3 separate regions of the Homo sapiens genome follow, and regions 2 and 3 are each linked to region 1. Evidence: fine-mapped expression QTL. A gene starts in region 1. Each other region holds a variant in brackets. All regions are shown on one strand. Distances are from middle to middle.

Region 1 (11,070 bases):
ACCTCCTGAGTTCAAGCGAGTAGCTGGGATTACAGGCACGTGCCACTATGCCCGGCTAATTTTTTCGTATTTTTAGTAGAGTCGGGGTTTCACCGTGTCAGCCAGGATGATCTCAATCTCCTGACCTCATGATCCACCCACCTGGGCCTCCCAAAGTGCTGGGATTACAGGAATGAACCACAGCACCTGGCCCTATAAGCTTCTTAAAAGTTAAAAAACATGCATTATTCTTCTTTGAATCCTTGGTGCCTAGAAACGTAATATTAATAGATGCATAATAAATACCTGTAAGTCAGGTGAGAGATGTCATCTCTCTCTTTAGTGTCCCATCCAAAGTAATCTCAGTGACTCTTGCCCACCTTTCAAAATTACCATAGAAATGTATTTAATTTCCCGATTCCTTCTAGGTAAACTAAAAAAAAACTTAGTCTAATATAATAAATGGAATCAACAGTTAATAAAATGGTCTGCAGTGTAGAAAAAATATCTAAAAAATAGAAAAGAAATTGGGCTTTACTACTATTTTAAGAATTGACAGGCCAGGCAAGGTGGCTCATGCCTGTAATCCAAGCACTTTGGGAGGCCAAGGCAGGCAGATAACTTGAGGCCAGGAGCTCAAGACCAGCCTGGCCAACATGGAGAAACCCCATCTCTACTAAAAAATCCAAAAATTAGCCGGGTGTGGTGGTATGCACCTGTAATCCCAGCTACTCAGGAGGCTGAGGCAGGAGAATGGGTTGAACCTGGGAGTCAGAGGTTGCAGTGAGCTGAGATCGTGCCATTGCACTCCAGCCGGGATGACAGAGCCAGACTCTGCCTAAAAAAAAAAAAAAAAAAAAAAAAAAAGGAATTGATCGACAAAGGTATTCTCATTAGGTTCACATATGTCAGAGGTCATGGGTTACAAACGGTCCCTGAGGTACCCTCAGGGAAGAGTGAGAGCCTTTCAACTTAGACAGGGTGACTGCAGGTTCCTTGCTAGTTTGTCCACATTCAGTGCACTGTGCCATCCTGCATATTTACAGAATGGCAGAATAGCTTCAAATGATTACTGCAAATAAACTGCATTGAAAGATAATACAAATAATGCAAACAATCTCCCAAGCAAGAAAATGGAAGCACTGACCTTTCTATTTTTACTATGAGACACATTTTAAGAAGAAAGTGAAATGCAGTGATATATATGAAAAGAAGCTGTCAAAATCCACAAAATTATGAAGAAAGCATTTTGAAATTGTTGCACTTTATAAATACACACACAAAAATACATATATTGAGGACTTATGTTAACGATTTTTTCCAATAGGGGTCCATGATCGAAATCATTTGAAAACCATTGGTTTAACATCCCTCCTCTTAATTAATATTTATATTTTAACTGAGACTGCCAGGAGATAATTTCTCCACTCCAAAGATTCTGAGGCTACAGTTTAAGATGCTTACAAAATATCTGGGTGTGGAGAAGGGACATTCATACTGCCTGTACATCACACATATCCATTTAAAAGGCCAGGCTTCTTTCTCTACCTAGTTTAGTATAAAATTATGACTTAAAGGTTATTTGATTCCTTTTTTCAATTCAGAATTTAAAGTAAACATTTTATGGTTTGATCTTAAATCTATAAGATGGTAATTAAATTAGCTGGTGTAGAAAATAAGGTATTTTGTGGTTTGATAGCAAATTAACTTATGCAAAGCTGATTCATACAATTTTGAAACATCTTTCTACCATTTCAATATTAAATAGTATTTAGATTATGGCTGTGCTCAGTGGCTCATGCCTCTAATCTCAGCATTTTGGGAGGCCAAGGTGGGAGGACTGCTTGAGGTGAAGAGTTCAAAGACAGCCTGGGCAATGTAGTGAGACTCTGTTTCCAAAAAAATATTTAAAAATTAGCATGGTGGCACATGCCTACAGTCTCAGCTACTTGGGAGGCTGAGGCAGGAGGATCACTAGAGCCCAGGAGTTTGAGGTTAACAGTGAGCCATGATGGCTCCACTGCACTCCAGCCTGGGCAACAGTGAGACCCTGTCTCTAAAAAAATATAAAATTATTGAAACAGTGCCCAGATTATAGTCACCTTAGTATCTTTTTTTATGTTAAAATTATTTGTTTTATATGTGCAAAAAGTTTATCTCAATCCTGGACCATCATGCTACTTTTTTTTTTTTTTAACAGTTCTCTGCCTACATGTTTTTCTGAGTAGTTTTTTACAACGTGTCATTTTCTTTTTTCTTTTTCTTTTTTTTCTTTTTTTTTTTTTGAGAGTCTCCCTCTGTCACCCAGGCTGGAGTGCAGTGACACAATCTCGGCTCACTGCAGCCTCCACCTCCTGGGTTCAAGCAAGTCTCCTGCTTCAGCTCCCACATAGCTGGGACTACAGGCATGTGCCATCACGCCCCGCTAATTTTTGTATTTTTTAGTAGAGACGGGGTTTCACAATGTTGGCCAGACTGGTCTCAAATTCCTGGCCTCAAGTGATCCACCTGCCTCAGCCTCCCAAAGTGCTGGGCTTACAGGCATAAGCCTCCACGCCCAGCCAAAAGTGTCATTTTCTTTATTGCCCACTTTCAAAAAACAAAAAACAAAACAAAACAAAAAAACCCTCTAGTAATATTGTATCATATAGGGAATGAAATTCAAACTCCTAAACCCAGCATTGACCACTCACAACACGCTCCATTTTACACGTCCGTCACTCTCTCTTACCTTATGGTAACGTGCCACGAGTTTTCCTTCTGTATTATACACCACATTGGTATTGTATTGAAAGTAGCCATTAGGAGGACATGTGGAGTCACGGGAATTACATGGCTTTTTGTCCCCCAAATTTGCCAAGACATAGATAGAGTTGTCCTTGGCCAGGCAGCTGAGTCTTGCTTGTACTGGTGTGTGACCAAATCTAAACCAAATTATAATTAAGAAATTTCAATTTTAAAAAAATATTTTAGTCACTTTATATGGAAACGATAGCAACTGTAACCACTTAAGTGGAACTTAAGTTAATACAAAAACTATGCCTAAAAATATCATACTTTAAAAGCCACAGATGATTATACACTTGATGAATGCTTCCCACACGGTATCTATTGCTCCAGAAATTCATTATTCGGTCTCCTGCCTCATCAAGGGTCTCCTCTCTACTGAAACATCCCATCAGCAATGAAATATCCTCTAGTACCTCCCATCTTTAAAAAATAAAATTAAAACCTCTTTTGACCTTTCCAAACATGCCCTTCCAAATATTGCTTTAATCCTCATCTCTCTCTTAAAGCAAAACTCCTCAAAAGATCAGTCCCTCTTGCTGTTGCCAGTTCCTCCTCTCCCATTCCCTTTCAGAGCACTCCAACTTGTATCTCTATCACCCAAACTCTTACTAATGCCAGCAGTGACCCCCACATTTTACCTGATCTCATCTTAACTTTTCAACAGCAGTTGGCACAGTTAATTACACCTCCTTCTGGAAACACCTCACTTCTCTATTGGACCCACCCTCTCATTTTCCTATTTATTGGTTGCTCTTCTTCGACTCTTCTGCTGATTCCTCGTTTTCTTCCGAGTCTAAACACTAGAATTTCCTAGTGCTCAAGCCTTATACCTAAACTCTTCTCTAACTCACTCCACAGGTGAACTCATCATGGTGTTTAACACCATCTATATGCTGACATTTGATTTTCTATCTCCAGATATAATTTTGTCTTTTCATGCCAGACTTGTCCATGCAACTGCCACGTTGACACCTCCAGGATGACAGTAGGACCCAGATTTTTAATATATATTAGAAGGTTTCTAGATAACCTTTTCCCAGGAAAATTAGATTTGTGAGCCTAGGAAAATGCAGTTTCAAAGCATAAGGTCTTATGATTCACTTGAAAATACATGGTGAAGTCTTTCTGCCTAAGAAGCAACTCTGGAATGGAGAGACTCTATAACATTGAAAGGGTGTCCCTTCAGCAGAGGCTTTGGAATGTATTCCTAACACAATCCACTGTCTACTTCAGAAATTAAGTTACTACTTGTATCTATGAGATCTCTTCCCTTAGTTTTTCTTGCAGGAATACCCTATTTACACATTTTCTCAAAATTTAATAAAGATTTTCAATCACAAAAGATTGTTAAATAGTATCTAAGTACAATTTTTTAAAATCTGACAAATGTTGAGATAAATATAACCATAACATATACCACATATATGGTAATTCAAGAGCAATCATTTTGCTTTGGTGAACGTGCGCATTTTAGAGAGTTACTTTTGCACAAAAGACTAAGATAGTTAAAATACCTGTGGGGGTCTTGACACGGAATCCAGTTCACCTGAGGGTCTGGGATATCCTCCAGATAAGGGAAAACAGTTTCCCTGGTAAATTTCCATCCATAAAGTGCATCTTCTGGAGTCACAATGATTCGAGCACCCTGTTCAAAACAAGCAAAATAAAAATGATTTTTCCATGTACAACACAGACAATTCAGCTCTCTCGTCTTCCACCAGCTCCCATGCCCCTCGTGTACATTATGATTAACAGAAATAAGAGAATACCTGCTCAGCTGCCTGCTTGATCGCTGTCTCCAGAATGTCTATATTCTCGTTCATGAGATTCAAGGCATCCTCCTGAGAAACTGGTGTTTCTGTTTTATTTGGCAAAATGACAGCATGTTCATACACTGCAGCTATAAAACTGTCCTGAGTACCAACCTGCAGGGTTATTAGGGCAAAAACTGCCACAGAGATTGGAAAAGAGGAAGTGACCATGGCCAAGGTTTAGTGATTTCTGAAAGCAAAAATAACATTCATGTAGTATTTACAGAGGGGAGAATGTTTGCATAACATGTGGCTGCCAGTTACTGGCCTTTTACTTTATCATCATTTTTCTTCTTCTTCTTCTTCTTCTTCTTCTTCTTCTTCTTCTTTTTTTTTTTTTTTTTTTTTTTTGAGGCGGAGTTTGCTCTGTCACCCAGGCTGGAATGCAGTGGCGCAAGCTCAGCTCACTACAACTTCCACCTCCCAGGTTCAAGCGATTGTCCTTCTTCAGTCTCTGAAACAGCTAGGACTACAGGTGCGCGCCACCACGTCCAGCTAATTTTTGTATTTTTAGTAGAGATGGGGTTTCACAATATTGGCCAGGCTGGTCTCAAACTCCTGATCTTGTGATCCATCCACCTCAGCCTCTCAAAGTGCTGGGATTACAGGCGTGAGCCACTGCACTTGGCCTACTTTATAATCTTAAGAACGCAATATATCTGACCACTTTTAAAGAAAGAAAAGTTGCAGTCCATTTAAGACAATCAGAAAGTATTACAGGGATTGAACAGCATGTACTATTAGTACTAAGATTTAATATTGAATTTCCAAAAGACACCCGAATTCAAATATAGAACAATTCCAGCTTTTGTTAATAGAAACTCATAACTAACTCTCGTGTAAAAAAATCACATCCCAACAAATATCTCATTTATTAAATTTAAAAATTGACAACAATTTTTTTGGTTCTGTTGAGTCACTTACATTGTGTTTATTTTTAGACGGGGGGGAAAATATTAAATACTTACTACTAAGAAAATGTAACACAGGACAATATTGATAACAAAATTTACCCAAATCTACACTCTGACTTACTTATTGCTATTAAGGACTGAAAACATGTGCTCCAGAAAAGCAGGATTTTGTGTCTGGTTTGTTCACTGCTGTATAGTTAGTGCCTACAGCAACAATACCCCGAGGCACCTAGGCCAGAGGAGGAATCTCAGCTCAGGGGCCCCAGGCCTCAGGATACTCCGCTTCTTTCCTTCTTTCTCTCTTTCACCCTTCCCTCCCCATCCTCCCCCTACTTCTCCTTCTCCTCCTACTCCTTCTCCTCCTTCTTTTTCCTCCCTCCCCACCCCCTGCTTTGGAGGAAGATGCCAGGGAAGGGGAAGAGTCCAGGATTGGTGATAAAGATCATCTGTGTTGTAATAAGGAGAAGATGTAACTTACATTTTTGTTAGCAGCAAATAACAACAATGAGTTTAAAAACAATGCTAACAGGCCAGGTGCAGTGGCTCATGCCTGTAATCCTAGCACTTTGGGAGGCCGAGGCAGGCAGATCACCTGAGGTCAGGAGTTCAAGACCAGCCTGGCCAACATAGTGGAACCCCCCATCTCTACCAAAAACACAAAAAGTAGCTGGTCGTGGTGGTGGGCGCCTGTAATCCCAGCTACTCGGGAGGCTGAGGCAGGAGAATCGCTGGAACCCAGGAGGCAGAGGCTGCAGTGAGCTGAGATCACACCATTGCGCTCCAGGCTGGGCGACAGAGCGAAACTCCGTCTCAAAAAAAAAAAAAAAAAAAAAAACAATAATAACAACAAATACAGGATGTGATCTCAGATGCCTTCTTAGGACATTCATATTCTCCCTTCCCCAGGCCCAATCCTGCCAAATAAAGGATTTGTTTTATTTTTATCCAGCCCTTTGGTAAAAGTCACGGAAATGCTTTTAGACAGCATAGAAGAGTAGGTACGATTAAACAAAGTTTATTCTGTGCTTTCCTTCTTACTGAGATAAATGTTTTGTTAAGAATGGGGCCTAGGGGCTATAAATAAGATCTGCTCATATTTTCTGCTTTGAATAGAAGTTTCTATTAAAGGAATAACTTTTCTTATCTCTATAGAGCAGAAAACTAAAAATAATTCAGGAAAAATGGTCAAGCCCTTTTGTGGAAAATGTAAAGGGATAGATATTTTTATGAATTTTTAGCAGATTGTATAATAGACTGTTAGTATATAACCATACTATCTAGTGTATAATTAGTAAATTAGCATAGGTGATTGGTATATAATAGATTATGAGTGCTGTTAGAGTTTAGAAATCATGTAACCCAAATGCCCACTTATTACAGGATAGGAATCTGAGGCATAGAGAGCTAGAGCGACAGAGCAGGATGTTCGCTTCTCATTCCTGATTCCAGAGTCTTTCCTTTATACCTAAAACAGCACATGTGTCTGTGCTCTCTTTTAATGTCTGCAACTGAGTGTCTGAACACTCGTGTCTTTTGGGGTTTTTTTGTTTTTTGTTTTTTTGTTTTGAGACAGAGTCTTGCTCTATTGCTCAGGCTGGAGTGCAGTGGTATGATCATGGCTCACTTCAGCCTCCACCTCCCAGGCTCAAGTGATCCTTCCACCTCAGCCTCGCTAGTAGCTGGAACACCAGGTACGCACCAACATGTCAGGCTAATTTTTGTTATTTTTTGTAGAGAGGAAGTTTCACCATGTTGCCCAGGCTTGTTTCAAACTCCCGAGCTCAAGCAATCCACCCACCTTGGCTTCTGAAAGTGCTGAGATTATAGGTGTCAGTCACTGCAGCCAGTCATTCATGTCTTTTAAAGAACCCAATTCAAAATGATCACCTTAAGAAGACCATAGGCAAATTTGCTAAGTGCTAATGAAATTTCTGATGCAGTTGATGCCTAATAAAAACAATTAAGCTCTTCCATCTCCATAAGTACAATTTGGGCCATGACCTACCTTCATTGATCTAGTATCACCAATTAGTAATACTTAATTAACTCTTTTGCTTTTAAGTAGTCAGGTAAGCTGATGAGGAGGAGTTAACAGTTTTATAATTTTGGCAGTAGAAGTGGGGACAATCATATCTGTTATTGTGTTCCCAAATCTGGATGTTTTTCTCTGTCCTTGGCTGTAAAAGATAGAAATGATGTTGATCAGAGTTTTGGATTTTTTGTTTGGCTAACAGGGAAAGGGAAAATCACTTCTGATATAAAATCAAGATGACTAAATTCCCTCCTTTGTTTTTTTATTTGAAGCATCTAAAAATTGTCTCATTGAAACTGAGAATTTGAGTAACAAAGGTAATTGCAAAAAAGAATTAGAAGTTAGTAAATGAAGGAGCAATTTAAATATAGGAAAATCCCTGAGATGTGAAGAAAATATTTGCTGTAGAGGTCATTGATATTGTTTTAAATCTTCAGAAGTAAAAAACCAAATTCAGGACATACAGTTTCAATAGTTGACTTTTCATAAAGATGATTGATCAGGTAAAGATTAAAATTTTTAGTTTAACTGAATTATAAAATAAAGTAAGGTTATTTTGCCACAGGGAACATTGATTAATTGTAATTCGTTGCTAAAAGAGCCTACTTCCTAATTTGCCATTTTGGGATTAATGAACTTAGCTAAAGGGGTAAAAAGTTAAAATCAATTAAAAATTATTTGGTCAAAGAGTCACCATAAAAAAAAAAAAAACAGTATTGGGGTGGGCGCAGTGACTCATGGTTGTAATCCCTGCACTTTGGGAGGCCGAGGCGGGCGAATTATTTGAGGTCAGGAGTTCGAGCCCAGCCTGGCCGACATAGTGAAAGCCAGTCTCTACTAAAAATACAAAAACTAGCTGGGCATGGTGGCAGACGCCTGTAATCCCAGCTACTCAGGAGGCTGAGGCGGGAGAATTGCTTGAACCCAGGAGGAGGAGGTTGCAGTGAGCCGAGATAGCACCATTGCACTCCAGCCTGCGTGACAGAGTGAGACTCTGTCTCAAAAATAAAAAACAAGCAAATAAACGAAAAACAGTAATAGCTCAAATATTTGTTTCTAATTGTGAATCTGATCATCTGTTAGAATAATGTTCAATTGGACTAGGTTTTAGGTCTTTAATTTTAAAAACCTCATTTTTTTCCCACTTTCTCAAGAGTAAGCATAGGGGTGTAGTTTCTGCTTTGCACCACTTCTTTGGACCTCTATTTCTCATCTAAAAGTTTAGGTAATCATACCTGCTCTATCTCCTAAAGATATGTGAAAGTCCTCTGTAAGACTACAACGCAGATGACAATAATTAACAAAAGTGAGTGACTATTTAGTAATATAATATCCTGACTGCTTAATATTATTTCATTGTTAGGCCCACAGAACTACTGTTGTTCAATTCAAATTCTAGTCTATTTGGATGACCGTGCTGAAGAACTGCTGGAATGAAATGGGGTTGACAGGGTACCTGGGCATCAACTCCTGATTCGTGCTAAACCCAGCGTGGTAGAAAAACTGCAGTGGGGTAGCAAAGGTGAAACAAGAAAACCAAGGAACTCAACCCCAGGAAGGAGAGGAGCTGCTCCAGGCTCTGACACTGGCTACTGGACTTCCTGTTCTGTCCCTTCTCCTGAATGCAAAATGACAAGTGAACTGAGAAACAAAGAATGGGAAATATCATGTATTATTATCAATGACATTCTCACAGGCAGCAAGGGTGACACGTCAAAATAAGAATAAGAAGCAACAATAGGCAGAAAAGCCAGGCTCCAGTGTTAAAACTGTTCCTCTTAATACTGTATACCAAAAAAGTACAATACTGTATCCAAAAAAAGTACTTAATGGCAAAGAAAAACGTTTCTGTCTCTACACCATTGGAGTATTACATATGGCTTTAGTGAGACTGAGTCAGGCCCTGTAAAAGGCAAGGTTGCCTTGAAAAGAACCAGCTTGAACTTTAACCATCTTTTGGGGCCAGGTCTCATTCAGATGAGGTAATCTTCCAGCTTTAGAGTTGGATGGGTGTTCAATGCTTCAGATAGCTAATGAACACAGCTGAAACCAGAGCAAATCTGAGAAGGTAATGATATATCACAGCCTTGGATTCTCTGAAAGCACTGCTAGATGGAAATGCTTGTGCAACATGAAATTGCCAATCATCACTGTTTTTGACCTAGCAAAAGTAATTTCACATGGTTCAACCAACATGTCTGTTTTCCTGTCTCAGAAACTTAGGGTTGAAGTTGCAGAAGTCCCTTTGAGTTAGTAGCATCCTCCCCTACTTTCCGACAGCTCCTGCTTCCTTAAAATAAAATATTAACAATATTAATCTCATAGGTCCACCCACTATGCCAGTCTATTAACCCTGCCAAAAGTTTCTTGCATTCACCAGCCGGTCCTTTTAAAAAATTAAAAATTCTCTTGACTGAATTAAAAGCTTTTGGTAAAGTCGGGATGACTGTCACCACAGAAATAAATCCACAGGAACTGGATCCAAGTCACTCGTTGATTTATGTAGGCAGTTGGAGAGACATGCGTTTGAAAGGGTATGGTAAGAAAATATCATGGAAATCGCAGACTTAAAAAAAAAAAAGATAGATTAAAAATAGAAAAGTTTATGTCTTATTGATCAATATGAGAATGTCACAGCAATCCACCAATAATGCCACTTGTTTATTTTCAGTGAGCAAGGAAGCAAAGAAAAAATAATGTTTGCAGCCCAAGGTAACTACTTACAGCTTTAGTCAAGGGGGAGCCTTCCACTCCTCTGGATCTCAGCTGCTTTCCTTTCCAAGGCCTGTGCTCCTCCAGTCACCCCTGGTGACTTCCTGTTTTGATTTCACTTTCTGGGTGGGCCGTACCCTTTGAGATGACAGACAGGAGTCCCAGCAGCTGCTGGTTCAAGGATGCTGCATCTTCAGTCAGACACCAGGAGAAAGAGTGTCTATTTTATTCTAGCCTGGCAATTCTGATTCCTGAGCTTTTCTTTCAAGGAGTTGTATGGGCCAGATGACACAGGCGAGGAGCATTGACACAATTTCTACTGAACCAAGCTCAGCAGAGGAACCACAGCAATAGAATCAGGAGATTCTCTAGCCTACAAAGCCTAAGTCGACTCTCATATTCATGTCATAGTCTTTCTCTTTAGCACATTATTCTTTTACTGTAAGACAGATCCCACTCCAGACTGTCCTTCAAATTAGAGAGAACTAAATTGTGTATGGTCCTGCATCTAGTTATGGAGAGCTTTTTTCTCACTGTAAGTTATAAGGGTCATGGTGGTATCTAATAATAATTAACATGGACATGGACTCTGGGGCCAGAATGCCTGGGATTGAGCCACTTCCTAGCTATGTGACTATGAGCAAGTTTTGTGCCCTCTCTGTGCCTCAGTTTCCTCTATCTGCACAATGGTGATACGTGCTGAATAATTTTTGCTATTATTACTATTGCTTCATTCCTACAAGATGGAGGCCCTATTACAAGAGCCATGCCCAAGGCAGCTTTTACCCAGGGTTTGGTGACATAACCACCTGTCCTTGGTTACTGTCTTGTT
Region 2 (11,070 bases), 39 kb before region 1:
TGAGGACACCACTCTAATCTTTAACACAGGGAAAGGGAAAATCCCAGCTCTAGCTTTTTTTGTCATCGTTGTTGTTTGTTTATTGTTGTTGTTGTTTGAGATGGAGTTTCACTCTTGTCACCCAGGCTAGAGTGCAGTGGCGAAATCTCGGCTCACTGCAACCTCCGCCTCTCGGGTTCATGTGATTCTCCTGCCTCAGCCTCCCAAGTAGCTGGGATTACAGGCGCCCGCCACCACGCCAGGCTAATTTTTTGTATTTTTAGTAGAGATAGGGTTTCGCCGTGTTGGGCAGGCTGGTCTCAAATTGCTGACCTCAGGTGATCCACCTGCTTTGTTTTTATGCCAAATAAGGGCAGAAGAAAAAAGCCAACTGAAGGTCATAAACCCAGGGGTACAGGCTCACTGAAAGACTGAGACTCAATCATAGGACCAATTCGATTTAGTGCCCACTGTACTCCAGTATAACTTCATCTTAACTAATTAGATCTGAAATGACCCCTTTTCCAAAAAAGTTACATTCTAAGATACTGACAGTTAGGACTTCAACATATAAATTTTTGGAATTCATATATTTTGGAATGTCAACACAAGACATTCAAATAATTTTAAAACTTTATTATTATTTTCATGTGAATATTTCAGCTCTACACTTTGATTTACTTTATTTTCCTCAAAATGGGGAAGCCAGGACAAAGAGGAATACAAAAGAGTTACTCATTTTCTATTGCTATATAACAAATTATCCCCAAATTCAGCAGCTTCAAAAAGCAAAAATACATCATCTCCCACTTTCTCTGGGTCAGGAATCCAGGGGCAGTTTAGCTGGTGCCTCTGGCCCAAGGTCTCTTTCACAAGGCTGCAGTCAAGCAGCTGCCAGGGCTAGCTATATCAAGGCTTGACTCCAGGAGGATTCACTTCCGAGCTCCAAGCTCCCTCATGTGGCTGACGGCAGGGATCAAGACCTCATTGGTTGTTGCCCAGAGACATGAGTTCCTAGTGATGCAAACCTCACCATAGGGCAGCCCGCATTATGGTATCTGGATTCCCTTAGAGCCAGACAGCAAGTGAACCCACTGGAGATGGAAGCCACGGATGCTTCGTAATGTAATTGGGGAAGCAACACCTCATCGCTTTTGTTGTATTCTATCCAATAAAGCATTAGGAACCATCTTTGAAGCTGCTTATCACAGAGGCAACAGAGGTGTATAAAGAATCAGAGCAAAAAAAAGAAAAAATGAGCTGGGGAGCGAGATCCAGAGAGAGGAGAGGGAAATTATATAAAATAGAAAAACTGTTCATAGATTTTGATATTGAGTAAGCTGGCAAATTTTGTTTCAGTTGTGCATTAAGTATAATATTTACAGAATTAGTGTTTATGTTTTTCCATTTTATTTTTAGATCTATTTGTCTTTGAATGGTATTTTTATAGTTCAATCTGCAAACAGGCATATCTAATTTTTTACTTTAGTAACTATAATGCATTTATTCTGCAATTGCCAAGGTAACCCAGGGGTTGTGGTTGGCTGGTTCTCCTGAGTTTCCGGTAAACACCAGCTTCTCTAACTGCTTGCTGACCTCTTAGGGCCTTTCCATGCCCAGGTGGGTGGGAATACCACATATTTCACAAAAAGATGTCATTATTATGTAACAATTTGTAAAAGGAAGCACTGAAATAAAAGTTAAAACTGAGATGAGTTGGCAAGAGGTTAAAAAATTACTTCTTGACCTTCTTAGATTAAAAATATTAAACCTCCCGTGGAGTTTCTAGTCCAACTCATAAAGAGCTTGGCAGTCATTTTTCCCATGCTCACACCAAGAAAAAAGCTAAACAAATGAAAATCGACAACTTTTCTAGGATGCATCAGAGAATTGAGATCACAGGATAAACTGCGGTCCTCAGAACTGCAGAGATAGGCAGATACAGAGGTTAAGAGTGTACTGCGAGCAGAGTCCTCTGCGGCTGGCGCCAGTACCGTGGGTTCACTTGAACTGTAATTGACGAATTGGTGGAGGCTCAGGGTGGACAACCTTGAGAGTTCTGGTCTGTTCTTCTTAACAAAAGCCTGCCCTCAAAGTAAAGTATTTTACCAGAGCCTAACCTACCTAGGGGAAGGAAAAATGCCAACCCCAGCCACTCTAATCTTTAACTTGGGGAAAGGGAAAATCTCATCTCTAGCTTGTTTTTATGCCAACTAATGGCAGAAGAAAAAAGCCAAGTGAAGTTCATAAACCCAGGGGTACAGGCTCACTAAAAGACTGAGACTAAATCATAGGACCAATAACCTTGTCCCTCCTCCAGCATGTCACTGCCACATGAATCTACCCTTTCTGGCCTACTTAGCATGTACTAGCTGAGAGCAAATCTTCAGATGAAATAATGCAGTTCGGCCAGGCGCGGTGGCTCATGCCTATAATCCCAGCACTTTGTGAGGCCGAGACGGGAGGATCACCAAAGGTCAGGAGTTTGAGATGAGCCTGACCAACATGGAGAAACCCTGTCTCTACTAAAAATACAAAAATTAGCTGGGCATGGAAGGGAGCAGTGTGGGGGGCGGGGGCGCCTATAATCCAGATACTCGGGAGGCTGAAGCAGGAAAATTGCTTGAACCCGGGAGGCGGAGGTTGCCTCGAGCCGAGATTGCGCCATTGCACTCCAGCTTGGTGATAGAGTGAGACTCCGTCTCAAAAAAAAGAAAGAAAGAAAGAAAGAAATAGAAATAGAAACAGTGCAGTTCTTGCAGTAGAGTATCATCAGCAGGACATGGAACTGGGAGGCACCAGCAGCCTCTACTACAACTCCTAGGCTGGTTCTCTGGATCCTTAACCCTACTGCTACAGCCAGCCAAGGTCCCCAAATGCAGCCCTTCTGCTCACACAAAGTAGAAACTGGGAGAATTGTCTCCAAGGAAATGACTTTGAGTGTAGACAAAAGCCCTAATTGATACCTCCAGACTCCTCCAACCAAACTTGCATAGATGGAGCAGATTGCCTTTTGCAAGGAAAACATGACATCGCACTGTCCAGAATAGGGCAAGACCCACAGTATTCTGGATTTTGCTAGCACAGCAGTGATCACCCCACCCCAGGCAGCAGGTCCCCAGAGGAACTCAGAAGCAAGTCCTGCCCAGCTTACGCAGAGAGAACCAGAAACAAGGGAAAAGGAGGGAAGAGCAAGGACTGAGTGGAGTGGGCACTGCCTCTTGCACTTCACCTGGTGAACTCTGAAAAGCCATGTGCACAGCATGTAAAAGTGTGTCCATATACTTGTGTCTGATAAAAGATTGATTGGCAGTCGGCCTCTGCATTGCTACTCAAAATATACGCCCATATTTTAATATTTAGTGGCTACAACACAATGTCAATTCTTTTGTTGACATTAATCTGGTTTTAGGAGAAACAATCCATTTTTCCTCTGGTCTCATAGCACAACAACTAACACAAAAGACTGGTTACTCCCAAGTAGGTGGAGATTTCTCCCCACTAGAAAGCAAGCAATTGACTCTGCATCAGACATCAGCTGGCTATCTTCCAGTTCAATCCAAATACTATTTATCCAAAGATAGCATCAGATCCCACATGTTAAGGGCTCAGTCCCACAAAACCGCCCCCTCCTTCCCACCAGTAACAAGTCTGGGCTTCCAGATCTTCCGACCAAATGGCTCTGGGTTGGGGTTTCCATGACCCCTTTTTTTTTTAGTTCAATTAGTTTGCTAGAGTGGCTCACAGAACTCAGGGAAACACTTACCTTTAGTGGCTTATTGTAAAGGATATTACAAAGGATACAAATGAAGAGGTGCATAGAGCAAGGTATGGGGGAAGGACTGGAGAGCCTTCCACGCACCCCTAGGTGTGCCACCCTCCAGGAACCCTCCACGTGTTCAGCTGTAAGGAAACTCTCCGAACCCTGTCCTTTTGGGTTTTTATGGAAGCTTCATTACATAGTCACGATTGACAACCATGTAGAAATGCGATTGGACAAAAAGGTTATGATCCCATACTAACAGTTTGAGTGGGGAAACCCAGTAAAGCTTGTCTGTTCAGGTTTGTCTTGACATCTCTTTATAGCATTTCTTCCTCTAGGGTATGGGGTGGGACCCTCTCTGAAATGAGGGTCTTTTGAGCCACAATCAGATTATAGTCCTGCCTTAGGTAGGTAAAGGGAGGACAGGGTAAGGTCAGAGAGGGAGATTCTGTTTCATGAGGCCTGCTCCTGAGGCCTAAAACCCCCTAATGTTAAAACAAACAAACAAACAAAAAAAAAACCCTAACAAAGGATATGGGAGTTATAAGCCAGGAACTGTAATATCACAAGTTGCTAATGTTACAATAATACATATCTCTGCATAGGACTTAATAAAACTATTTTTGCATTGTTAATGTAGCCTGTAAACATGATGATGTGGCTTGAACTTGCTCTCATGAAAGAAAAAATTTTTTTGTTTACCAGTGAGTTATACTCTGCTGTATCAGAAATATTAATTAAAGCCATAAGAGTGGCTTCACTATCCATAGAAAGATTTTAGATAAGGAAGATACAGCTGTGAGAGCTGAGTCTAGCAGAGTGCATCATTTATATCAATGACAAACAAAATAAATGTGGTTGGAGGAGGGAGAAGAGACAAAAAGGTCAACGAAAATAAAAAGCGAAAGGCATTAAAGTGTGGGGGGTAAAATTACTCCAAGAAGTACAGGCTTAGTAAGAGCTGAGAACTGACCATGAGATTTGACTTTTTTTTTTTTAGACAAGGTCTCACTCTATTGCCCAGGCTGGAGGGCAGTGGTACAATCTTGGCTCACTGCAGCCTCTATCTCCTGGGCTCAAGTAATCCTCCAACTCCTGAGCTCAAGTGATCCTCCCACCCCAGCCTCTCCAGTAGCTGGGATCACACTAGCATACTCGGCTAATTTGCTGTTGTTGTTATTGTTTGTAGAGACAGGGTTTTGCCATATTGTCCAGGCTGGTCTCAAACTCCTTGGCTCAAGCCATCTGCCTGCTTTGTCCTTCCAAAGTGCTGAGATTACAGGTGTGAGTTATGGTAGCCTGCCCCGAGATTTGATTTTAAAGTTCCTTTTAATAAAGAGGGGGGCAGGAGTCAGCTTACATAAAAATGCCATGAGGTGAGAGGTGCCAAGGAAGCTGGGGCAACCAGAGTACATAATGCAGCCTACAGACAACTGGCTTAGGAAAGAGAAGAAAGAATTCTAGAAGGAACAAATGTAAGGCGATAAAGAGGGAAGATGCCCACCTACTGCACACAGAGGAATCGGGGGCACAAACCTAAGATCCGAGAGTGATAGTCCCTGAAGAGAGAATCCAGGAAAAATGGGAGGGGGAAACCGAGTGCATTTTCTGCCACCCAGAATATCTCTGACTTACTGGTACTGGACTGAATTATAGCAGGTGGAAATAAACACCTAGGAAAAGTTCAGAAATGCGTTTGTCAAACATTCTGTGGACAAAGAGGTGTCTCCTACATAACCCAGAGAACCCAGCTGCTCTTCAGCATATCTCTTTCCAGAGTTAATCAGTGACCAACCAGAAAAATGACTAAGAGAGCCAAGACAGTGGGCCAGAGGTATCTGGGGAAAAGGTGACATGGTGGTCCTGTCTAGGAAGCTCCCAGCCTGGCACAGCCTGCAATAAACCCCTGACCACTGAGAAGGGCTCAACCAAGATTGGGTAGATTTCAGAACAGAATAATTTCAGAAGGAAATGAGATGTGATCTGAACGACATAATTTATTTTATTTATTTATTTATTTATTTATTTATTTATTTATTTTTTGAGACGGAGTTTTGCTTTTCTTGCCCCAGGCTGGAGTGCAATGATGCGGTCTCAGCTCACTGCAACCTCCGCCTCCTGGATTCAAGTGATTCTCCTGTCTCAGCCTCCCGAGTAGCTGGGATTACAGGCACGCACCACCACCCCCAACTAATTTTTGTATTTTTAGTAGAGATGGGGTTTCACAGTGTTGGCCAGGCTGGTCTCAAACTCCTGACCTCAGGTGATCTGTCCACCTCAGCTTCCCAAAGTGCTGGAATTACAGGTGTGAGCCACCGCACCCAGCTGACCTAATTTATTTTTCAAAAAATTTCTGTTTTGGCTGGCCCTGTGGCTCACACCTGTAATCTCAGCACTTTGGGAGGCCAAGGATAGCAAATCACTTGAGGTCAGGAGTTCAAGACCAGCCTGGCCTGGCCAACATGATGAAACCCCATCTCTACCAAAAATATAAAAAATTAGCCAGATGTGGTGGCGTGTGCCTGAAGTCCCAGCTACTTGGGAGGATGAGGCAGGAGAATCACTTGAACCAGGGATGAAGGGGACCAGCCCCTCCATGCCTATGGGTATTTCTCGTCAGATGGGATAAGAGACTGAGAAAAGAAATAAGACACAGAGACAAAGTATAGAGAAAGAATAGTGGGCCCAGGGGACCGGCGCTCAGCATACAGAGGACCCGCATGGGTACCGGTCTCTGAGTTCCCTCAGTATTTATTGATTACTATTTTCATTATCTCAGCAAGGGGAATGCGGCAGGAGAACAGGGTGATAGTGGGGAGAAGGTCAGCAAGAAAACATGTGAGCAAAGGAATCCGTGTCACAAATAAGTTCAAGGGAAGGTACTATGCCTGGATGTGCATGTAGGCCAGAGTGTAATAAAGAGTAACAGAGCAGCATTGTTGCCAACATGTCTCGCCTCCAGCCACAGGGCGGTTTTCTCCTATCTCAGAATAGAACAAATGTACAATCGGGTTTTATACCGAGACATTCCATTCCCAGGGGCATGCAGGAGACAGAGGCCTTCCTCTTATCTCAACTGCAAGAGGTCTTCCTCTTTTACTAATCTTCCTCAGCACAGACCCTTCACGGGTGTCGGGCTGGGGGACGGTCAGGTCTTTCCCATCCCAAGAGGCCATATCTCAAGCTCTCTCAGTGGGGAGAAACCTTGGACAATACCCGGCTTTCCTGGGCAGAGGTCCCTGCAGCTTTTCGCAGTGCATTGTGCCCCTGGTTAATCGAGAATGGAGAATGGCGGTGACTTTTACCTAGCGTACTGCCTGTAAACATATTGTTAACAAGGCACACCCCGGATAGCCCTAGATCCTTTAAACCTTGATTCCATACAACACATGTTTCTGTGAGAACAAGGTTGGGGCTAAAGTTACAGATTAACAGCATCTCAAGGCAAAACAATTGTTCAGGATACAGTTC[A/C]AAATGGAGTTTCTTATGTCTTCCTTTTCTACACAGACACAGTAACAGTCTGATCTCTCTTTCTTTTCCCTACACAGGGAGGCGGAGGCTGCAGTGAGCCGAGGTTGTGCCACTGCATGCACTCCAGCCTGGGGGACAGAGTGAGACTCGGTCTCAAAAAAATTAAAAAAAAAAAAATCCATTTCAAGTATCCAATTTCCATATAAATAGAACTTAGGAGTCAAATTAGTCATGACTAAAGGGACAATACTAGCTAAAAAGTTGTTCATAGTTACTTTAAAAGATGTCCTTATTCTTTAATTTCCTGTATCTTAATTGGCTGGAATCAAATACCCTCTGCATATTCAAAGTTCATCCTATGTATTTACAAATGAAGTGCATTAGTCAGGGTTCTCCAGAGAAAGAGAACCAACAGGAGAGAGAGAGAGAAAGAGATTTATGATAAGGTATTGGCTCAGACAGTTATGAAGGCTGAGAAATCCCACAGTCTGGTCTGCCATTTGCAAGCTGGAGATGCAGGAAAGCCAGGGGTGTCATTCGAAGGCCTGAGAGCTGAAGAGTTGATGGTGTCAATTCCAGTCCAGGCCTGAAGGCCTGAGAACCAGGAGCACATGAAGGCAGGAGAAGATCTCTATCCAGCTCAAGTAGTCTGGCAGAAAATGAATTCAAACCTCCTCCTTCTTGTTTTTCTCTGCAGGCCCTCAAGGGACTGGACGATGACCATCCACACTGGGGAGGACCGTCTGCTTTACTCAGTCCACCAATTCAAATGCTGTTCTCTTCCTTGAAACACCCTCACAGACACACCCAGAAACAATGGTTAACCAGCTATCTGGGCATCTCATGACCCAGTCAAATCAACACATAAAATTAACCATCATATGATGGAAACAACACTTGCATACATTAGTGCAGTTACTGCAAAAGGATTTTTCTAGGACCTCCTCCTATTTAAATATACGCTCCACTATACATATACATACTTACATATACTTAAACTCACATACATGGAGGATGAATGCGGCTCCCATAAATGAACCTGTGCTATACCAAACATGTAAAATGTGAAATTTGCACACACACTTGTTGCTTTTCAAATCTGCTTCAGTTTATTATATTTGTTTCTGTAAGTTTATAACATCTTTTCTAAACAGACACTAACGGATCTCTTTTTTTTCTTCCTTTCTTAGCCAGGCTAATCCTAAAAGGGCTCTGCTAAAGGAGATCACTGGAATTTCCCAGATCCCTGCCCTAAGCGTGGAGGGTCCTTCTCAAACACTCTTCCATACAGGGCCATAACTAAGACAGGCAAAGGGGCTCCACTTCGGCTCCTCAAGCGTCCATCTCTTGAAATCTGGTCAAAGAAAGCAAAGGGTTAACTTCAGTGCAGAGTTTAGGTTACAACCTAGAGCCCTTCTCAGGCAAGATCACTCCCTCCTAAAGCAGTGTAGAATGGTAAAAATCACACAGGATTTGGTGTTGGAAGACCCAGGTTCATGTTTCAAGTCTGAAAGTAGAGGGACTTTGTGCGAAAGTGCAGCCAACAAATTTGTTGCACAGGTGGTCAAATAATATGTATAAAAATATGTTCTTCAAACTCATGAAACACTATACAAAATATTAGTTATTACTATAATTATAACAACTTCTCAAAATAGTATACCCAGAAAATAAGTTGTAGATGCATTATTTAATGTATTTAATTTGCACCTTCTACACCATGCAAATGACAACATTATTGCCATTATCAGCAGTCAACATTTTTATTTTAGCTTCTCTGTGAATTTCCTGTTGCCTTGAATATCAACATCACATTTATGTTAAAAAAATGAACCCCAAATTCTCCATCACAGCCTAATGGCAATCTAAAACCACAATTTATATTCCATATCATAGTTTCCACATATTTAAGGTGTTTCTTGTAGAATGTGAACCACGATATTGCTATACTCTCATTATTTCAAAGATTTTCATTATGCTGCTCTACCCATCTACTCTGCTCAAAGGAATTTATCATCCTGCACACCTCCTACCTCATAATGTCTTTCAGGGGCAAGCTGACTCCCACTTAGAATGATCTGTGGGAAAACATAACGCGTTCCAAATGTGCCACTGAGGGAGAAGTCTTCAAACTTGGTAAAAGCTGACCCCACAGGTTCTCCACACGTTTCCAGGTCAGTGGTTTGACACTTCAGTAATGCACATATCTATGGAAGAAAAGAAAAGAGAAGGAGTCAGAAAACTTGCAAATATTTTCTCAGCTAAATAATGCAATTTCAAACTATAAATGCATATTTAAATTGCCTCATAAGAAGTATTTTTCAAACTGCAGGTAACAACTTATTAATGAATCCTAAAGTCAATATAGTGGGTCAGGATTAACACTTTTTATACTGAAGTCAAATAGAATAGACTAGGATTTTAAAAATCAGAGTGCATTGCACATAATAATAGCTATTTCTAATTCTATTTTAAATTATTTCATAAACTATTTCAATTAAATATCTTTTTTTTTATTCAGTCACACATCCACTTGGCTACACTGGGTTATGAGGTAAAATATCCTTCTTTCTCTGGATTTAGTTGAAGACAATTTGAAAAACACTGCTCTAAAGTAACCTGACGGGAAAAGAGAATACACAGAAATTGCAGCTTTTGAAACCTGAACCTGGCCTGCTGAGAACTAATCAATTTGCTTTATGTTTTTGCCTTTCAACTAAAAGAACTAATTCTGTTCTTGCTAAGACTGAACAAATAATGTGTTCTGGGGACAAAATTCAGAGATAAATATAACATTACTAATTATAAAATTAGCTAAATCCAGCCCAATTTTCAAAGAAAGGCAATGATGACCTAGAAGAAAAACTGATAATAAGGCCACTTTAACATATTAAAGCATTTCTACCTGTAAGTAATATTGGCCTTCTACTGTGTGCAGTCCATCAAAAGCACCTAGGGCATAGATCTCGTCTGTTCGCTTCTCAGACATCTTGTAAGTTAAGTGACAACACAGATCTTTCTGGCAAGCTGTGTAATTTCCTGTATTTCTCTTAAGCTTGGTGAAGGTAAACTCATCAAAATAAATCATCCCCAGAAAATCTGACTGTTCAGAGGAAAATGGCTTGACACTGCTGGCATACGCATGCCAGTCAACAGCTGCAGGGTAGGTGGGCTCACGGCGGGGCCGAGACTTCAGTTCTGATAGCAACAGCTGACCACTCTCTGTTTCCATGTCATAGTGGTACACCTTGACTGCTTCTGGGGCGTAGATTCCACTCCCTACAAGCAACATAAATACAAACATTGGTTTCAGATTTGTTATGGTGACCAACTAATAGAATATTCCCATGTGAAGTTAAATACAAAGTTATTAAAGCATATTTTCAAGATAGTTAAGGAGATAGCTGTTACATTGGCCTAAGTTCCAATTTGACTCTGTGTCCTCCATAAGGTACTACTTGCACTGAAATTATCATTTGACTTGGGGGGCATAGTTTTAAGCTAACTTAGCAACAAACTAGAAAATCCCCCAACGTGAAGAATAATTTTAGCTCTCCACTGACGATTTAGTTTATTTGTGTTTGGGATTTGTTATTCAACAAATAACAGAACAGTTAAAAAGGAAGCCTGCATTACTTTGAACATGGATATGATAAAGGAGAAACTCTAAAAACCTGATTAAGTCAAAAGAGATTTTTATCACTTCAACAAGTTTTTTTTAATGCTTGAAATATTTTTATTTGTTTGTATTTTTTTCTTCCAACTGTTATTTTAGGTATAGAAGGGGAACGTGTGAAGGTTTGTTACATGGGTAAATTGCATGTTGCTGGGGTTTGGTGTGCAAACGATTTTGTCAC
Region 3 (11,070 bases), 26 kb before region 1:
TGTGGTGGCTTACGCCTGTAATCCCAGCATGTTAGGAGGCTGAGGCGGGTGGATCACTTGAGGTCAGGAGTTCGAGACCAGCCTGGCCAATGTGGTAAAACCCTGTCTCTACTACAAATATCAAAAAAAATTAGCCAGGCATGATGGCATATGCCTGTAATCCCAGCTACTCATAGGCTGAGGCAGGGGGAGCCCCTGAACCCAGGAGGCCGAGGTTGCAGTGAGCCGAGATCGCGCCACTGCACTCCAGCCTGGGCAACAGAGCAAGATTCCATTTCCAAAATCAACAACAACAACAAAATAAAACTGTTACATATACATTTGTAAAAATCATCCCCACTATACCACCATCTATACATTTTCTTACTGTGACATTAATAAAAAAACTTTATTTTTTTTACAACCAATGAATGAAACCACATGTACAAATGATATTTAAAATGTGAAAATGTGTATCTTAAAATCACAGGTTGAAATCTTGAATCCTACACTTCTCAGATTGTTTTCCACTATATTCTTTAAATTTCAACAGCACTACTATGTTAATAAAATAAACTTTGTCATGTGTCCCAATGATACTGCCAGGTTTATAGAAGTGAAGTCCATTGAAAATTAATTTAGACAATGCAGTTGCTACATATTATTAATTAGTAAGCCATTCATAATTTTATTTTATTTTTCAGCCTGATTCTTTTTCCAAAACTCCACTTAACCTGGGCTCAGGAGTACAGCATATGTTTTGCTCAGGTTTTTGTTTGGCCTGTTGTGTGCATGTGTGTGCTCTGGGGAGAGCTACTTCCCACCTCTGTGGTCCATGGAGGCCTCTTGCTCCTCCTTTCTCCTCCCATGTGGCAGCCTATCCCTCATCCTTTGGTGATTAGCTCAGGAAAGGCACGTCACCTAATTGAATCAAGGAGCGATAAGGCCTTTGCAAGGTTCTAGGAGGGAGAAATACACCCTTCCTGTAGATTTTGTTGATAAAGATGTGAATTTCGTGTTGCTCCAGCAATGTGGCTTCTAAAAGGAGAGTTCCCCTGAGAAAGAAGCTGTAACAAAGGGCTAGGAGAGCTAGAGGGGTGGATGATAACTTTGGAGCCTCTGAGTGTCAGACTGCACTGAAATGAGACCTGTCCTTTCTATGATACACATTTTTACATGTGCATAAGCAAGGAAATTTCCATCTTTTTAAAGCCATTTTCATTTGAGGTTTTGTTTTCATTGCAATCAAAAAAGTCCTAATGGAATACATGGTAGCTTAGTATGAAATGCTAACAAATTGGGCTAAAAAATGAACCTGATATTAAATCATGAATGAAACAGAATGTTTACTTCTTTTTCAGAGAACATTAAAAGCTTTGTGTGGCTATTGTCACATCCATTTAAATACTCTACCATATTCTGTTTTATGATAAATGCAAACCCAGAACGGTTATATGGAACTGAATTAAATCTCCTTTTCAACTATGATGTAATAATTATAAGATGCATCTATAACAGTTCTCTCCCCAACATTCAACAAACAAACACACATACATACCACAAGCACACAGAAGAAGTAACAAGTTGAGCTAAGGCACAAGTGATGCTCACCTTATGGTAGCGTGCCAACAGTTTTCCCTGAGAATCAAACACCACATCAGTGTTGTATTGGTAACGGCCATCAGGGGGACACTGAGAGTCACTGGCATTGCATGGCTTCTTGTCCCCAATATTAGCCACGACATAGATAGAGTTGTCCTTGGCCAGGCAGCTGAGTCTTTGTTGCACTGGTGTGTTGCCGAATCTAATTCAATAGACATTTCCTCAAACTTACTATATTTTAGTGATTTCTGAAATACCAAAGTGATACTTTATTTGCCCATTGCCCATAACACAACAGCTCTAGGTCAAGAATCAACAGAAAATATTTTAAAACTCTCATGTGATACAGTGTTTATCTTCCTGAAAGCTAACCTAATTTACTATGCCAAACTCCAGATTACAGTACAAGACTGAAGGAAAGAAAAGATGGAAGAGGAAGAGGAGGATGAAAAGAAGCAGCACATTCTCTTATGAAGTGCTCCCAGGAAGATATATGAAGCACTTGAAATTTAGCAGATTCTGCTAATGGAGAGGACCTTTTCTATAATCCAAGCCATAATTTGTACAAGGTTGCTGATACGAGATGTGGTTGGAAACAGAAATGCCAGGTGACAGTAAATAGTTTGTACCCTCCAGATTGTCTCTATAAAAAAACAAATATAGCTGTAAGTAGTGGAAATGTTAAAAATTAAAATAAAAAATAAAAAGCACTTCACTGTACTGACTCAGTTTCTTCATCTGTCAAATGTAAAACAATAGCTTCCTTTCTGCCTTAGTGGATCCACATGAGAAATCCTGAGATAAGTACAGACATGAAATTGTTTTACCAAGTCCATCCATATTAAAGATATTTATCCTTGGTATAAGAAGAGAATGTAGCATGGTGATAGCTGGCTTCAAATATTTGAAAGGCTTAATTTATAGGAGATGGGTC[A/T]TATGTGTGAACATAGCATAGAATGCAGGAAAAAGACGAAAGGAAGTTAAAGTGAGGCAGATTTCAGCAGAAAATAAGACAAAAAATGTTTAGCAACCAGCTCACTCTGTTAAATAAGTGGATTTGCTAGTCACTAAAAATTTTATTATAATATGGTTCATCTAGGCCCTTAGAGTCCATTCCGTTAGCACAGTTAAATGACATAGCTGTTTTAATTCCAGCCAATCTAATGATCAATCATGAGATCATAAGCCTTCCTTTTTTCACATATTTGTAATGCAAATAGTAATGCCAACTACATAAATTGAATGTAATAATGGGTATAGTATACCAGGTACAGTTCTTGGGACCAAGTAAGTGCTCAGTAAATGAAAATTGCTATTATGGATTGTGTGATTAGAGGCCATTCCATGTCTCTCTATGAACTCACAGCCCCTCTGCAATTGAGGTTAAACTAACCTTTGAATAAAAAGGACAGATTAATGGCCTACTGGTTTAGACCTTTTCTTTTTATTTTCTTCTAAAAAAAACAGAGAAGTACTATTAATATTCATATTCATTAAGACCTTTAATAACTTTATCATGTACTTTGTTTAATTTTTCTTTTCTTGACTAAATAATTTGAGTTATTTAATATTTCCTACTAGTTACTCGTGAAAAAAGCCCATGGAACTGTTTGACATGTCAGCATTCTAAATATTTAAATGCACAAGGATGACCGCATGCCTCTCTACTATTCTCTTCAGGGATAAATATCACCAGGGAGAAAACTGACTTTCTTTTCCAATATTATCATTATATTAAATACTGGATTTCTCCTTTCTGTAACACAAAACTGAAACGTTGTCATTTGAATAAGTAGGTGTAAGAGTTCATAATGTTGACATTTCATCAGTCACCTACTTTCCCAACTTAAAATAATTTATCGATAGCTAATTATCAAATTTATGGATATATTTTCCCTGGAAAAGTCAGTTTCATTAGCCCAGTCAAATACAGTACATTTTCGTGTAAGCCTCATCAACTGCAGCAAATAATGATTCCTTCCTGTTCTGGGAAACGCCTCATAAGCAAGTAGATGTTGAATCATAGTGACATGGTTTCTGTAAACACAGACCATGCAATGTTTAGAGAATATTTTTCCAAAGGGCAAAATCCCAGAGTGAGGTTTGACTCACATAGCTGAGCCTGAATGTTGTACCATTAAGCATGACTTTCCACTTAATTTCACATAGGTAAAATTATCAAAGAAGTTTCTCTTTTTGCACAATAGGTGTAGTTCTAAACAGGTGCATGTAAATTTAAAATTAGCAAGTTAAATGACTTCTTAACCCATCAATTTTGCCATTTAAAGAAATAATCTTAAACTATTTTTAAAAGTTAATACAACTAAAATAATCTATTTCACAGATATCATATTTATTATGCATATTTTCTTTAAGAAAGTTATGCCTAAATTACATCTACTAATAATTACTAAAGTCTCTCAAAGGACAAGAACACAAAGAAGTTCAGACTCAGTCCCTTCTGTTAACAAAAAAAAAAAAGGAATAGTGACAGCTAGCATTGGAGAGTGCATCACAATGTACAAATTCCATGTGTATTACTTCATTACTCTTGTCTGATCTGTAAGAGAATTAAGGGACTCTATTATCCCTGTTTTACAGATAATGAAACAGAAATGTTAAGCATTTAGGTTATACGCTTACATCACTCAGCTAGGTGGTCGTAAAATGTGGTCCCAGAAGTAGGGCTTCCTTTTTCAAGTCCTATACAATTTCCATTGGCCATATTGATTGCATTCTGAATGACAGTGATAGCAAAGCTCTTTGGAAACAGGCTCATTCATCTTTTTACTCTTCCTGTGAAGGAGGCAGGTGTCCATGGATGAACCAACTTACTTGTATTTGGGACACAGGTTCTAGATATTCCAACTTTTTCACTTTGTTCAAACCCAATTAAACACATTTACTATAAAAATTGTGTATATACCTACTATTTTTTTTTCGAGATGGAGTCTCACTCTGTTGCCCAGTCTGGAGTGCAGTGGCGTGATCTCGGCTCACTGCAACCTCTGCCTCCTGGGTTCAAGTAGTTCTCCTGCCTCAGTCTCCCGAGTAGCTGGGATTATAGGCATGCACAACCACACCCAGCTAATGTTTGTATTTTTTAGTAGAGATGGGGTTTCACCATGTTGGCCAGGCTGGTCTCGAACTCCTGACCTCAGGTGATTTGCCCACCTCCACCTCCTAAAGTTCTGGGATTACAGGCGTGAGCCACCACACCCGGCCTATACCTACTATTTTTTTAAGACAAGGTCTTACTGTCACCCAGGCTGGAGTGCAGTGGTGCAATCATAGCTCACTGCAGCCTCAAACTCCTGGGCCCCAGTGATCCTCCTGCTTCAGCCTCTCGAGTAGCTGGGATTATAGGTGTGAGCCACCACACCTGGCTAAATTTTTTATTTGCCGAAATAGGGTCTGGCTTTGCTGCGCAGGCTGGTCTCAAACTTCTGGCTTCAAGCAGTCCTCCTGCTTTGGCTTCCCACAGTGATGGGATTACAAGTGTGAGCCACCACGCCTGGTCACACCTACTATTGTTGAAAGACAATTGCAACAAATAACCAACTAGTCATCAGTATCTCAAGTCATTTACCAAACAGGAGATATGCCAGATGATATACACTATGAAACATAAGCAGTATCTGCAGATTCAACACTATTTCTTTTCTTCTTTTTTTTTTTTTTTTTTTTTTGAGACAGAGTCTCACTCTATCGTTCAAGCAATTCTCATGCCTTAGCCTCCCGAGTAGCTGGGATTACAGGCACACACCACCACACCCAGCTAATTTTTGTATTTTAGTAGAGATGGGGTTTTACCACGTTGGCCAGGCTGGTCTCAAACTCCTAATCTCAAGTAATCCACCTGCCTTGGCCTCCCAAAGTGCTGGGATTATAGGCATGACCCACAGCACCCAGCCTCAACACTATTTCTAACATACTACCAATGTCATTTTTTCACAGATTTATAAACAAAATTTCTAAAATTCATATGGAACCAAAAAAGAGCCTGAATCGCCAAACCAATCCTAAACAAAAAGAACAAAGCCTGAGGCATCACATTACCCAAGGCTACAGTAATCAAAACAACATGGTACTGTTAGAAAAACAGACACATAGACCAATAGAACAGAATAGAGAGCCTAGAAACAAAGCCGCACACCTACAGCCATCTGTAGCTCAAACAAAGTTCACAAAAATAAGTATGGGGAAAGGACTCCTTATTCAACAAAAGGTGCTGGAATATCTGGCTAGCCATATGCAGAAGATTGAAACTGGACCCCTATCTTTCACCATGTACAAAAATTAACTCAAGATGTATTAAAGATTTAAATGTATGACCTCAAACTATAAGAATCCTAGAAGAAAATCTAAGAAACACCATTCTGGACATGAACCTTGGAAAATAATTTATGACTAAGTCCTCAAAAGCAATTGCAACAAAAACAAAACTTGACATGTAGGACCTAATTTAACTAAAGAGCTCTGTACAGCAAAAGCAACTATCAACAGAGTAAATAGACAACCTACAGAATGGGAGAAAATATTTGCAAACTAGGCATCTAACAAAGGTCTACTATCCAGAATCCATAAGGAACTTAAATCAATAAGCAAAAACAAAACAAATAACCCCATTGAAAAGTGGGCAAAAGACATGAACAGACACTTCTCAAAAGAGGACATACAAGTGGCCAAAAAACACGTGAACAAACACTCAACATCACTTATCATCAGAGAAATGCCAAGCAAAACCACAATGAGATATCATCTCACACCAGTCAGAATGACTGTTAACAAAAAGTCAAATAATAAAAGATGCTATGGAGAAAGGGGAACACTTACACACTATTGGTGGAAATGTAAATTAGTTCAGCCATTGTGGAAAGCAGTTTGGAGATTTCTCAGAGAACTTAAAACACAGCAACCATTCGACTCACAATCCCATTACTAGGTATATACCCAAAGGAAAGGAAATCATTCTACCAAAAAGACTCGTGCACTTGTATGTTCATCGCAGCACTTTTCACAACAGCAAAGATATGGAATTAACCTAGGTGCCCACAAGAAGGAACAAAATCATGTCTTTTGCAGCACCAAAGGACATTATCCTCAGCAAGTTAACACAGGAACAGAAAACCAAATACTGCATGTTCTCACTTATAAGTGGGAGCTAAGCATTGGGAACTCATGGCCATAAAGATGACAGCAATAGACACTGGGAACTAATAGAGGGGAGAGAGAGAGAGGAAGGCAAGGGCTGAAAACCTTCCTGTTGTATACTATGCTGGGTGGTGCAATCATTGTACCCCAATCCTCAGCGTCATGCAATTTGCCCATGTAACAAACCTGCACATGTACTCCCTCAATCTAAGCTAAAAGTTGAAATTACAGGGAAAAAAAAGCATCTACATCCTATGCCACAGATTGACTATTTATCAACACAATTACCAGTCAAATTCAGTGAGTTTACTGTTGGTGTTTTACCAAATCACAACTTTTTGTTTAGAAATTAATGATATGATATTACCTCCAGGGGTCTCTACATGGAATCCAGTTCACTCCAGGGTCTGGTATATCCTCTAGATAGGGGTAAATGCTCTCCCTGGTGAAGATCCAACCATAGATTCCATCTTCTGGGGTCACAATGATATGTGCACCCTGCTCGAAACAAGTGGGGCAAAAAAGTTTGTCATGAATTCCAAATACTCTTTGACCAAACTGCAAGTCTCCTTTACAAGTATAAAAGGGTAATACCTGCTTCGCTGCCAGCTTAACTGCTTTCTCCAAAACATCTATGTTCTTGTTCATCAGGAGCAAAGCTTCTTCTTTTGAAACAGGTGTTTCTGTTCTGTTTGGTAATATCACCGCATGCTCATATACTGCAGCAATAAAAGTGTCCAGTGCACCAACACTCAGAGCAAGGAGGGCAAAAACTGCCACACATTTTGGAAAATGTGATATAATCATAACTAAAATTTAGTGATCTTTGAAAAACAAACTCAGATTCTTACGTTTTGTTTCACTGGAAAAACTTTACATTAAATCCCTCCTGGCAATCAGCTGTTTATATTTTCTTGCACATATATTACACAACACAGCATTGAGAAAGGATGTTGTGCAAGAAAACTGACAGCCAGGACGTAATTGGATTGATTCAAGTGTACAGTGCAGTTGTTGACATTGTTCAGAGTCAAGTCAACACTAAAAGATTGAGCCAACCAGATGAATTCACCCCAGTCCAAAACACACTGGCAGTTGAAGTCTTTTCTAATAAAAAAAAATTTTCCTGGTAAGCCAACATTTCTATTAATAGGGCCAATATTGGAAGGTAGTCATCATAGCAACAATTTGTTGAGCACTCTACTTACATATTTGTATGGCCATTTCTATTTGAAAAGCCCTTGTTCTCCATCCGTCTAAGTTCCAGCTCCCCCTAGAGTCCTCCCAAATCCACTCCAGTCCTAAGTGATATTTCTGAACTCCTATAGCATTTTTTTCTGTGCTGCTGAATGTCTCTCACTCCTTGCTGTTGTCTTGACCTTTAATTTAAATATTATACCAATACTTAATATTATATATGTATGTTTTGTCTTCTTAAAGAGATTAAAAAGAAACTTGCTGTTTTCTTTCAGAACATCCATGTCCAATAAACATCTAGACAGAGATGATGTATCCTGGGATGTGGCCCCTGGAGGGTAAGGGAAGTGTCCTGCTCACTGTTGAACCTCATCACCCCAGCACATGTGTGACAGATGGTGAAAGCTCAATATATGAATGAATGTTGAATGACGGAATCTACTACCTGATGGGCCAGTCTATTCCACCTTTGAACATTGCCAATTTTAAGAACATTCTTGTTATTGAGATGCAATTTACTTTACCTGTCTTCTACAGTTTAAACCCGCTTCCATATGAAGACTAATCAATAATTCAAAAAGTGTTAAGTTCTCCTTTAATTCTTTTATTTTTTAAACATATCATCCTTATAAGTCCCTTAAGGGCAGGGTCACATTATAATTCTCTGCTGCTTCTATAGAATTTTATACTGTGCTAAGCTCTGTAAATGTTTTTTGATTAGTTAAATTCACTTCCCTCGCCCAATTTTGGATTGAATCTCCTTGTTTGAATATCAGTTAATTTAAAATGTAGAATTTTTTTTAAGGTTTAAATCTCTGATTCTAGAACAATTAACACTGCTTCTCCCTCTTGAGATTCTTTCTAAGATCTAAGGAAAATTGTAAGTTATGGAGATTTGTGTCTATTTTGGGTTTGGTTTGTTTCTATAATTCAAAGTCCCTTGGTTTCAATAAACTTTTCCATTATCCAAATATTTCTGCTCCCAGATACCCCACAGTGTTTCCATATGTCCTTATGCCCTGATACCATTTCAGGAAATAAGGACATATGAACATAAATTCAGCCCTAAATTCTGAGTTTATGTCTGACATAAATTGTTTTCATCAGACATCAGACATAAGTTCTTTTCCAAAAAAATTTCTGAGGAGAAGAGGGAAACTATGTAAAACAGATGGATTGATCTGGGATGAGAAGAAAATAATTTTCATATTTCAAGTTGAAATTCTAACTCTTTTCTTGGTTCACCTGACTTTCTGAATAGAATCAAAAGGAAACATATGGGAATTCCCCTTCATTCTCCCAGCCCCTAGTTCCAGGAAATGTACCAGCTTTTTTTGTGTGTTGAAATCAATAGAAACTTGAGTTAAATATTTGATTACCCAATGTTGTTAGTAATGTCTTTGCTTCCTAGGTGTATAAGGCGTGCAGCTATGAGTTATTTGAAACACTGTATTGGTACATAATCCTTATGACAGTCTGGCATTATTGTAGGATTAAGAAGTTTAGAGTCAGAAGTTTTGTATTACAATAAATATAATTCTTCTTTTAAATATGTAAGGGACACATCTTAAAGGAGAGGTGCTGTAATAAAATATCTAAGAGTTTACTGGCTTTCCCCAAATCTTTATTTCTAAACTCATTGTAAAACCTCCTCTCCATTCTCCTTATCAAGTTCCTGACCCCATAAATAAGAATTCTTTCAGGCTCTCCATCAGCCTCTCTGATCCCACTCCTCCCACCCTAACCCTCAATACTGTAATCCATTAGAGTTCCCTTGACCATTGCTGTCATTAATTAAGATACTTCCCATGCATATATTGAATCAAAGCAGACAGTAAGAGCCTTCTTTCTCTTGGTTCCATTTTATATTTTGTGTTCTTAGCTAAAAGTACTCTTCTTATTGTAACATGATCACTGTTGCTCTGATCCTGGAATGATTCTGACCAAATCCTGCCTTTCGAGCTCAAATCCATTGCCTCTCCAGTCTTGTTGCTATTCCCTTCTCTAAACTCTTAATGCACTTATGGCCAGTAGCCACATTGTTGTTCACTGTCTTTCAGTCCCTTACTCTACCCTCTCCCCTGGCCCCAGGTTTTTTTCTACTTCATACCTTCAACTATCTTCTACAAAAGGATAATGACTGTGTCTCTATCTTTAGCTCAAACTTCCGTTCTGAACTTCAGGCCTATTTATCCAACTCAAAAGAACTCCTTTCCACAAGCTCCCACCAAGTATCAACCCACCTGCCAGCCATTTGTACCTGTAAATTCTGCCTCCCCCCATCCTTACTGTAAATGACTCCTCTTGACCCTACTTAAGTCTAGCCCCTATCTTTGAGCACTGGATCCCAAGGACATTGCTCTAGAAGTTCTTCTCTCTTACTTTGTTTATTTTTTTGTTTGTTTGTTTTTGAGACAGGGTCTCACTCTGCCACCCAGGCTGGAGTGTAGTGGTATAATCTTGGCTCACTGCAACCTCCACTTCCCAGGTTCAAAAGATCCTCCTGCCTCAGCCTCCCAAGTATCTGGGATTACAGGCATCTGCCCCCCACACCTGGCTAATTTTTGTATTTTTAGCAGAGATGGAGTTTTATCATGTTGGCCAGGGTGGTCTCAAACTCCTGGCCTCAAGTGATCTGCTCACCTCGGCCTCTCAAAGTGCTGGGATTATAGGCGTGAACCACCAATGCTCGGCCTTTTTTTTTTTTTTTTTGAGATGGAATCTTGCTCCATCACCCAGGCTGGAGTGCAGTGGCCCAATCTTGGCTCACTGCAACCTCCGTCTCCCAGGTTCAAGCAATTCTCCTCCCTCAGCCTCCCGAGTAGCTGGGCTTTCAGGCGCACATCACCATGCCTGGCTGATTTTTGTATTTTCAGTAGAAACAGGGTTTCACCATGTTAGCCAGTCTAGTGTAGAACTCCTGACCTCAAGTGATCCACCCACCTCGGCCTCCCAAAGTGCTGGGATTATAGGCATGAGCCACCGTGCCCAGCCCCATTACTGTTTATCATCAATTTTTCTTTCTCTATTGGATACAATAAAGAAAACACAAATATCCTATTATATATTCTACAACTATCCTGTAACATTTTCTATCTTAAAAAAAAAAGCCTTTTGATCTGACATCCCCTTCCAATT

The links.
Region 2: its variant is fine-mapped to the expression of VNN2 in blood mononuclear cells (TOPMed, PIP 0.98).
Region 3: its variant is fine-mapped to the expression of VNN2 in blood mononuclear cells (TOPMed, PIP above 0.99).

The regions. Positions count from the first base shown.
Region 1 is chr6:132,753,133-132,764,202 of GRCh38, forward strand. VNN2 (vanin 2) reads right to left here and starts at 4,772. Exons shown (of 7, transcript NM_004665.6): 1 at 4,539-4,772; 2 at 4,284-4,414; 3 at 2,711-2,903. The coding sequence starts at 4,751. RefSeq lists enhancers at 7,119-7,308, 10,238-10,337.
Region 2 is chr6:132,714,488-132,725,557 of GRCh38, forward strand. It overlaps the pseudogene VNN3P. Among named protein-coding and RNA genes, the nearest start is that of VNN1, 6.0 kb to the left of the region's middle. The variant A/C (reference allele first, on the strand shown) is at 7,214.
Region 3 is chr6:132,727,151-132,738,220 of GRCh38, forward strand. It overlaps the pseudogene VNN3P. Among named protein-coding and RNA genes, the nearest start is that of VNN1, 19 kb to the left of the region's middle. The variant A/T (reference allele first, on the strand shown) is at 2,516.